Regions from separate parts of the Homo sapiens genome. Here regions 1 and 2 are each linked to region 3. Evidence: fine-mapped expression QTL. A gene starts in region 3. Each other region holds a variant in brackets. All regions are shown on one strand. Distances are from middle to middle.

Region 1 (2,773 bases), 160 kb after region 3:
CTTATCAGTGAAAATAAAAAGTCAAACATTTGGAGAAAGGGAAAATTCAAAGTTCATGTCCATTTTCCTGGGGTACAAAGGATAGACAGAATTTTTATGATAGTATTATTTCTTTAGGAAAAAACAGGATACTAATTACATCATTTTTCCTTTATAGAAAATCCACCTATAAATCCAGGGATTGTATGAACACACCAAACAACCTTTGGTTCTGTTGCTCTTCTGAATCCCAATGTGATTAAAATGTTCCTGAGGTTTCCCTAACCACCAACTCAGGTTCTAAGTATTTAGGATGTAGTAAAGATAAAATTTTGTTAAAGAGACAGCTAAAGCTAATTTTTACATAGAAAAAAATGTATATTTATATCCCTAAAAGGCAATACAGAATTTATAACCAAACCATGTGTGAGAACTGTTAAATTACATTCCAAATACCAGCAGTGGAACAAACAGAAACACAGAGATGTTTTAAAAAACATGCAGCACGTTACAAAGAGGCCGTGTAATAATTCACAACTTTTGTTAGCAGCCGTTAAGTTTGATTAGTATTAAGCAGCAATGGTTTAAGCAATTTTAAATCATGATATGATAGTTACATATATGCATTTTACTGTTCCAATTATAGTTTAGTAATAGGTCAGGGGTTTGAGCAACATTTTAAGCATTATAATTTTCTCCTAAATTATTTACTATGGGAAATTGGCTTCCACTTAAGGTTTTCATAGAAACTGATGGTTATTTTATGAGGGAGATGTCTGGACGTATGTGTGTATGTGCATGTGTGTGTGTGTATATACACACACATATATAAATTAGAATTTGCAGATATTATGTGTATATATATACACACATATATAATATATATATTATATATATATATAATTTTTTAGTCATGTTTTTAGTCATTTGCTTTTTTTTTTAGTCATTTACCGGTTTCTCATAAGACATCCAGTCACTTCTTTTCCCTTGCCCTTTCCTAACACTGTTCCTAACATTTGGGTACCACCCCTTAGCTCCTGCGACCCATGTGGTTTTGGAGAAAGCTGATCACACTCACGGTGACAGGCCATGGTTGGAAGTAACATGTTCCACTTTTCACGAAAAGTAATAGATCTGAATATCATTCATGGTTAACAATAGATAGTGTGACATTTGGGTATGACCTGCTGGTAGAAATAGGGCATGATTCCCTGGAAGTAAGTCACTTACACCAACCCAAGTTCTAATTCTTTAAGATGTAGTAAAGACAAAATTGTTCTTGCTATATTAAAATGGAAGAAAGGATTTGCAGAGTTCAAGGATGATATGCTCTAGCTCTATATGCACTCCGCTATCAATC[A/T]TTCCTTTTACTTTCTGCCTTGAAAAAATCATTTTAATAAAATCAAAAATTTTCATTCTAAAATATAGTTCAATGATTTCACTACCCTTTATGAACAAAAACAGCACGAATCCTCTAAAGAAGAAAATTGAGCCAAATTGTTATGTTTTGCCTAGATATTCACACAATATTTCACACCATAATAGAAAAAATAATTTTTCCATGAGAAGTCAAGAGACCTGTATTATATAATAGTTCAAACTTTTAAAAATTAACATGTACAATACACTGCAGTATAACATAATTTTTGTTGGAGGGGTAGATGAAGATAGTGGCTCAGTTTCCTTTGTGTAAAGCAAGTGAACTTGGTCGATTTAACTTAAAATTTCTATTAGCACTTAATATCTGCAAATTTTAATTTAGGGCTCAACATGTGGCCTTGCCATTTAAAAGAGCTATCAGCCTTAATAGCTAACACAAATTCTTTTATTTCAGTGTATTATATAGGAGAAACAAAAAATGCTATAAAATTCATGTTTCTAATGAACAAAAATGTTAAGGTTTATGACTATGCATTGTATAGAATTACCTAATATTTTTATATCTGAAGTAGACCTTTTGTAAGTACAGTACCTACATGTTTTTTTCATACATTCATACTTGCCTTCGCAGTTTCACATCTGTATAAATCTTATGATCGTTCTCTAATAAGTACACAAGATTAACACTACTTATGAAATATGGACAAATATATTACTACTCATTATAACCCATCCAGATTATTAGTTTAACTCATTCAATTACTACAAAGATCCTTACAGAGCTGAATTTAATATACAATAGAACATCACTGCCCTCTGATGGTATCACTAATATATAATTTTAAATTCAGCAAACAAAAAATCCTTTATCATAAAGTAAAACAGGGTATGTTAATTTTATAAGCTACATAAATAAAAATAAATTGGAAAAAATTTTACATCTGCCTAAGAATACTCATTACTAAGTTATAAAAATTTACAGTGCTCCTTCACATCAGCCCTTCAAATGATTTTTTCAAGATTCTCCCTGATGATCAGTTTAAAGGCACTAAGTCCATAAGTTTAATCAAACATCTTCATAGTGAAATAAAAACAGATGTAACGCGATGCAGCACAAATATAAGTAGTTAGATCATTTTATAAAGGATGAAAAGACAACTGCGAATTTTAATCTTAGAGGTATATGCAGAATGTTTACATGCAGTGTATGTATATTCACTATTTAGTTCCATTTTTTAACTACTAAGAAAAATAGCAAATCACCCACTAACTGCAGAAGAGCAAATGTAGGAAAATCAGTATTTAATGAAAAGTCTAGCCATTCTCTAAGCTTGAAAATCAACGTTTTTTTAGCATTGCACTTAAGGGCAATAATATTACAAAGTCTGAATCTTCATTTACTCAAAGAGAAGAA
Region 2 (2,773 bases), 61 kb before region 3:
AATTTATTCCTGAGAGAAATCAATGGTTCCTTCCTGGGGCATTTACATTAATTAATTTATTTTAATAATGAATACCCTATATTCACAATTTCCTAGGGAAGATGGGCCATTCTATTTATAATTGGTTTCTACTTCAGAGCTTTGGTATATTGTTTCAGAGCTTTAAATATGTATAAAAGAGCTACAAAGATCAAGAAAAAAATGGAAATTTAACCACAGCAACTAAATCATGACATCGATAAATCCTGTTGATCCAACTCAAATGCAACAAAGAAGCTTTGGAAGATTTTTCAGATTGTTGGGTGGTAGCATGAATACGTTACCCTATATTGGGACCCCCACTCTTCTTGTGTGAGTTTACACTCTTTGTAGCCACTACCAAAATGACTTATGTTTCTTAGCGATATGACACAGAGGATGATGCTGTCATCAAATTTCTACTTCATTACTATACATAAGCTACTTAATGTATGTCAGTCATAGTATGAGGGTCTTAGATGTTCAATAGTTAGCAAAAGAGAGGCATACTTGCCCTCCCTCAGCTTATAGCCCAGTGAAAAAGGCAGACACAAATGAACAGGAAAACTGTAATTAATAGAGAATGGGCTGCCTGAAGAAAAATATCGGGATGAAATATATTTAGACAGAGATGTTATGGTGAGAAGATAAAATTAAGCTGAGAGGTGAAAGACCTGAATGAGAACATTATTGACTGAAGGAATAATGTAAGCACAAGTGCTAGAACAGAAAAAAAACTGTTTATTTCAAAAACTGAAAGAATTTCCATGTTTTTGGAGTATATGGAAAGGAGAATGACAAGAGATGAGCAAATAAACGTGTATAGAGAAGCAGAGTATACTTTTAATCTTGTAAGGCAAGGAAAGAAAGGAAAATTGCCTTTATTTAAAGTGGAATGAGAAGCCACTAAAGGGTTTTGAGTAAGTGACTGAAATCATAAAAGTGACTCTATAAAAACTACTTCATTCTTTCATATATCTATTTAACAAATACTTTCTGAGCTTTCACTTTGTGCTAAAAACTGTTCTCTACTCTTTGGATATAAGACCAAACAAAACAGACTAAGTACCCTCTTTTTGAGGAGTTTATATTCTATAGAGAGAAGGCAGTAAAAAATAAATAAATAAACAAGGAAATAGTAAATTTGTACGTAATGATGAACATTTCTATGGAAACAAGAAAGAATGGAACAGTACAAGGAGGATCATTAATGGGGATGGGGCAAAAGTGGG[C/T]AGGGTCTCTGGTAGTGGGGAAAGTTGCTGTATTAAACAGAGTAGTCAGAATAAGACTCAACGAGGTGAAAGTTGAGCAAAGATTTGAAGTACGTAAGAAAGTTAGCTAAACAGGTAATGGTAAAAAGTTTCACAGGCAGAGAGAACAGCAATGAGGCAGGGCCATATCTGGTGTTTTCTAAGAGCAGCAAGGAGGGCAGTGTAGCTAGGGCAGAGGGAGTTGGGGGAAGAGTAAGAGAAAAGGCAGAGGGGTAAGAGAGAAAATGCTGATTATATAAAGCCTTGTAGGCCATTAGAAGGACTTGATAAAAGGAGATGTCAATGCAGTATTTTAAGAAGAGGAATAACATGATCTGTCTTATATTTTAAACTACTCTAACTGCATTGTTCAGAATGGATGGTAGACAGACCCCAATGCAGTCAGGAAGACCTGATTAAAAAGCTACTACCTACCACAAATTAAAACAATGAGATACTATTATATACCTATTAGAATGGCTGAAGTTCAGAACACTGACAACACCAAATGCTGGAAAGGATGTGAAGCAACAGAAACTCGCATTCATTGCTGGTAGGAATGCAAAATGGTACAGCCACTTTGGAAGACAGTTTAGCAGTGTCTTACAAAACTAAACACACTCTCACAGCAGAATCCAGCATCACTTTCCTTGGTATTTACCGAAAGGAGTTGAAAACATGTATTCACACAAACACTCACACATAGAGGTTTATGAAAACTTTATTTATGACTGACAAAACTTAGGAGCAACCAAGATGTCCCTCAGCAGGTGCATGGATAAACTATGGCACATCCAGACAATGGAATATTATTTAGCACTAAAAAGAAATGAGCTATAAAGCCATGAAAAGACATGGAGGACCCTTACATATATATTACTAAGTCAACAAGGCCAATTTGAAAAGGATACATACTGTAGGATTCCAACTATATGACAATCTGGAAAAGGGAAAACTACAGAGACAGTAAAAAGATCAGTGGTTTCAATGATAAATAGGGAGAGAGGAATGAATGGGCAGACAGTGGTTTCAATGGTAAATGGGGAGGAAGGAATGAATAGGCAGAGCACAAATAATTTTTAGCACAGTGAAACTAGTCTCTATGCTACTATAATGGTGGATATATAATATTATATATTAGTCTAAACCCATAGAATGTGTAACACCAAGAGTGAACCCCAATGTAAACTATGGTCTTTCAGTGACATGTCACTATAGGTTCATTAATTTTAATAAACATACAATTTTGGTGGGAATGTTGGTAATGGAGGAGTCTATGCATGTATGGGGAGAAGGGTTGAGGGAATCTCTACACCATATGCTCAGTTTTGCTGTGAATCTAAAACTTCTTAAAAAATAAAGCCTATTAAAGAAAGAAAAAAGCTATTGCAGGAATCCAGGTAAAAGATGATGGTGGCTCAGACAAGGGGTTTAGCAACAGAGATGATGCAGACACATTCTGAATATATTTGAACTAATAATTCTGGCAGTTTGGACATAGAGAG
Region 3 (2,773 bases):
TTTTTGAACTCATTACATATTTGGATAATTCTTAAATTAGCATTTATTGGCTGATGATGTTTTGATCAGGAAAAATTATCAAGAACATTTGATTTTTTACTAAATTGTATGTGTTCAGACACTCAAAATTCTTTGTTGGGGCTCTAGGAATACTCAGATCTGATCACATTTTAAGAAATTTTATCATTCAGATTCGTTTACTAAAACTCATCAGTAATGAGTTCTGTATGTTTTGTTGTTATTTATGTTTATCCAAGCTGTTATGTTGACCTTTTAAAAATGCTGTTTCTCCTTAAAATTAAGAATAACTATTTTTCCCTTCTTTTAGAAAGCTAAGGAGGAAATGTGGACCTGATAGCTGCAAAAGCAAATTGAACTAAAATAAAAAGTTCGGAGTTCAAGGACTCCAAACTTTTCAATCGGTTTTCTCTTCTTCTTTATTAAATGTATTGCCACTAGAAGCAAATAACTGATGCAGTTTCTGCCAGATAATGGCAATAATAAAGGTGAAATGTGAATATTTTTTAAATTATATCTAAAATCATCCACATCATTTAGCTTGTGGATGTACAGGTAGTTTCTATTTGGGAGTGGGGCTAGGTAACTCATCATTATAAAAATGGTATCCAAGCAAGGATCACAATACCTGTACCACTGCCATTGTAAACATTGGATGGCAATATACATGAAACTGATGAACATGAGAACAAAACAAAATAAAAAGTGTAATACATTTTATTTATGCTCCATGGGAGGTGGTAACCTGTGGGGATCAGCACACTCAGCAAGCGGTCCCCGCGCATTAGAGGTGAATCAGACACTTGAACATCTGTCCACTTCATGGAAGACGTTTCATCTCAGAATACACGTACTAATAAACAACAGTTGGAGACAATTGTCTCTGACATTCAACATAATGCTGAGCTGAGGCTGAAAGAAGGAAGGGTGGAATTGTATTTCCTTTGGTAAAGCAAAAACAGCCGTGAGTACAGCCTCTTCTAAAAATCTGATATTTAAAGAGAATTGTAAGACATCAAAATGTTCAATTTGGAATGAAGAGTGGCCGAAGTTACTGGAAAGCTCGTGCCTCCGTCTGCAAAATCACTGGCCAGGAAAGCAAAAACTTTTCCAACACCCAATTTTAATATTGTGCTAAAGCTATTGACTCTGTTAAACCTCTAGAGTTAAATATGATCCCCTCCCCAGCCCCCACCTTTTCTCTCTTAGGTTAGTGTCTGGGGGACAAGGAGGGGGCTGGAGCTTGGCCCCAACCTCGGAATTGCTGCCAAGGGCTTGTAATACAATCTCTCCCCGTTTGAAGGGTAAATCAGTGTCAACTGCATTTGCGTCCACCAAAAAAAGTAAGCATTTTACTTCCGCTCGGTCTATGAGGACTGATGAAATGTAGGAAATCTGTTTCTGGCAGGGAGAAAAAATCGTTTTCCCAAACAGCACTAAAAGGAGCCATCAGAGAAGTATGAAGAGGGGTAGTGCGGCTGTAGCTGCTGCCGCTGCCGCCAGGCTGGTGGGGTGCGGGGAGCGGCTGCTGCAGGACCTGTGCCTGGAGGGGGCCGGCCCCGAGAAGCTGCAGGAGCCCAGCCCGGAGCCCAAGCGCCTCTGAGAGCCGCCAGCAGCCCAGCTCGGGACGCGGGGGTGAGCACGACTGGCTGGCCCAGTTCTGCGCCAACGCCGCCGCAGCGTGCGCGCACCGCAGCCGGGGCTCACGGGAGCCCCTGCCTGTCTACTGCACCCGGGGCGGCGGGGGAGGGGAGAGGTCATTAAAAAATAACCTCAGGAACGAGGCGGGGAAGAGTGAAGAGCCGCGGACAGTTGGACAGGCTCTTTCTCTAAGAGTGGGTATTCACTGCAGGGGGTGACTTTCTGATTCTCTGGAAACAACCATGTGTTCCTTATCCCTATTGCGGAACACCCCGGACAACCGCAGCACGTAAGCCCGCTGGGGTGGCTCTGCCAACCAGGGACAGAGTGAGGATTTTTAATGAACACATCGATTATAAATGCACACATATGCATTCGTGCACAAGAGTATCTGTAATGCATGCTCAGCATTGTCTGTTATGGTGGGGTGGGATAGAGCCAGAATGGTCTTAAAGGGCTGATCCTGAATGTTTTACTTGAGTCGTTGAGGCCAGGATGGGAGGAAAGAGCGCCACATGTGTGATCTGGGGTGATACTCACTGTGTCTGATGAGTTTGATGAAATTGAGTTTTATGTGAATAAACAAACGCTAGCCGATATATATCAACACACTTTGGGGAGATTTTGCGTGGTATCGTTCTTTTTGTTCAGTCCAAAGTTGAGACTGGAATCTGAAATTGTTTGGGGAACAAAGGAGGCAATTTTGCTTTGGAGACATTATTTATACTGGCAAAATTAAATTCTGTCAACTCAGTATGGTAAATTACCATTAACTTAGCCCAGGTATCCGAAGAAGTTTCCATTGTCTTGAATGAAGAGGGAGCAAAAGCGAGGGTTAACAGATTCTGTTTCTACATTCTAAAAACAATTGAGGTTGGGGGAGGGTTGTTAATTCTTTTCCCAGTTAACCTTTTTGAAATCACAGTCTTTACCCTCTCCATCTTCTTCATCTTCATCCTCTCACCTCCGTGATCTTCTTACAGTGAAGAGTTTGCAAAACTTTATTCTTATAAAATTATCTCCTCCAACCCTCTCCAACAAGGTTAGATCAGTTGTGTATGAGAGATCTTATGCCAAGGAAATAAGATCTGCTTGTGCACAGGAACACCCATTT

Which allele goes with the higher level. Positions count from the first base shown, and alleles are read on the strand shown. Sizes are in standard deviations (SD) of each study's normalised expression. Not every link is listed here.
For the expression in tibial nerve of the gene that starts at base 1,365 in region 3, allele T in region 1 goes with a higher level than allele A (small effect, 0.18 SD a copy in GTEx).

Evidence for each region. PIP is the estimated chance that this variant, and not a neighbour inherited with it, causes the effect. A credible set is the group of variants that fine-mapping cannot tell apart.
Region 1: its variant is the best candidate, but not a certain one, in a credible set for the expression of GAS2 in tibial nerve (GTEx, PIP 0.59).
Region 2: its variant is the best candidate, but not a certain one, in a credible set for the expression of GAS2 in whole blood (TOPMed, PIP 0.65).

The regions. Positions count from the first base shown.
Region 1 is chr11:22,820,270-22,823,042 of GRCh38, forward strand. It overlaps SVIP (small VCP interacting protein), which reads right to left. Exons shown (of 4, transcript NM_148893.3): 4 at 1-2,773. Among named protein-coding and RNA genes, the nearest start is that of LINC02718, 7.8 kb to the right of the region's middle. The variant A/T (reference allele first, on the strand shown) is at 1,340.
Region 2 is chr11:22,604,238-22,607,010 of GRCh38, forward strand. No RefSeq gene overlaps it. Among named protein-coding and RNA genes, the nearest start is that of FANCF, 20 kb to the right of the region's middle. The variant C/T (reference allele first, on the strand shown) is at 1,251.
Region 3 is chr11:22,665,247-22,668,019 of GRCh38, forward strand. GAS2 (growth arrest specific 2) reads left to right here and starts at 1,365. Exons shown (of 8, transcript NM_001143830.3): 1 at 1,365-1,653. RefSeq lists a silencer at 1,445-1,604.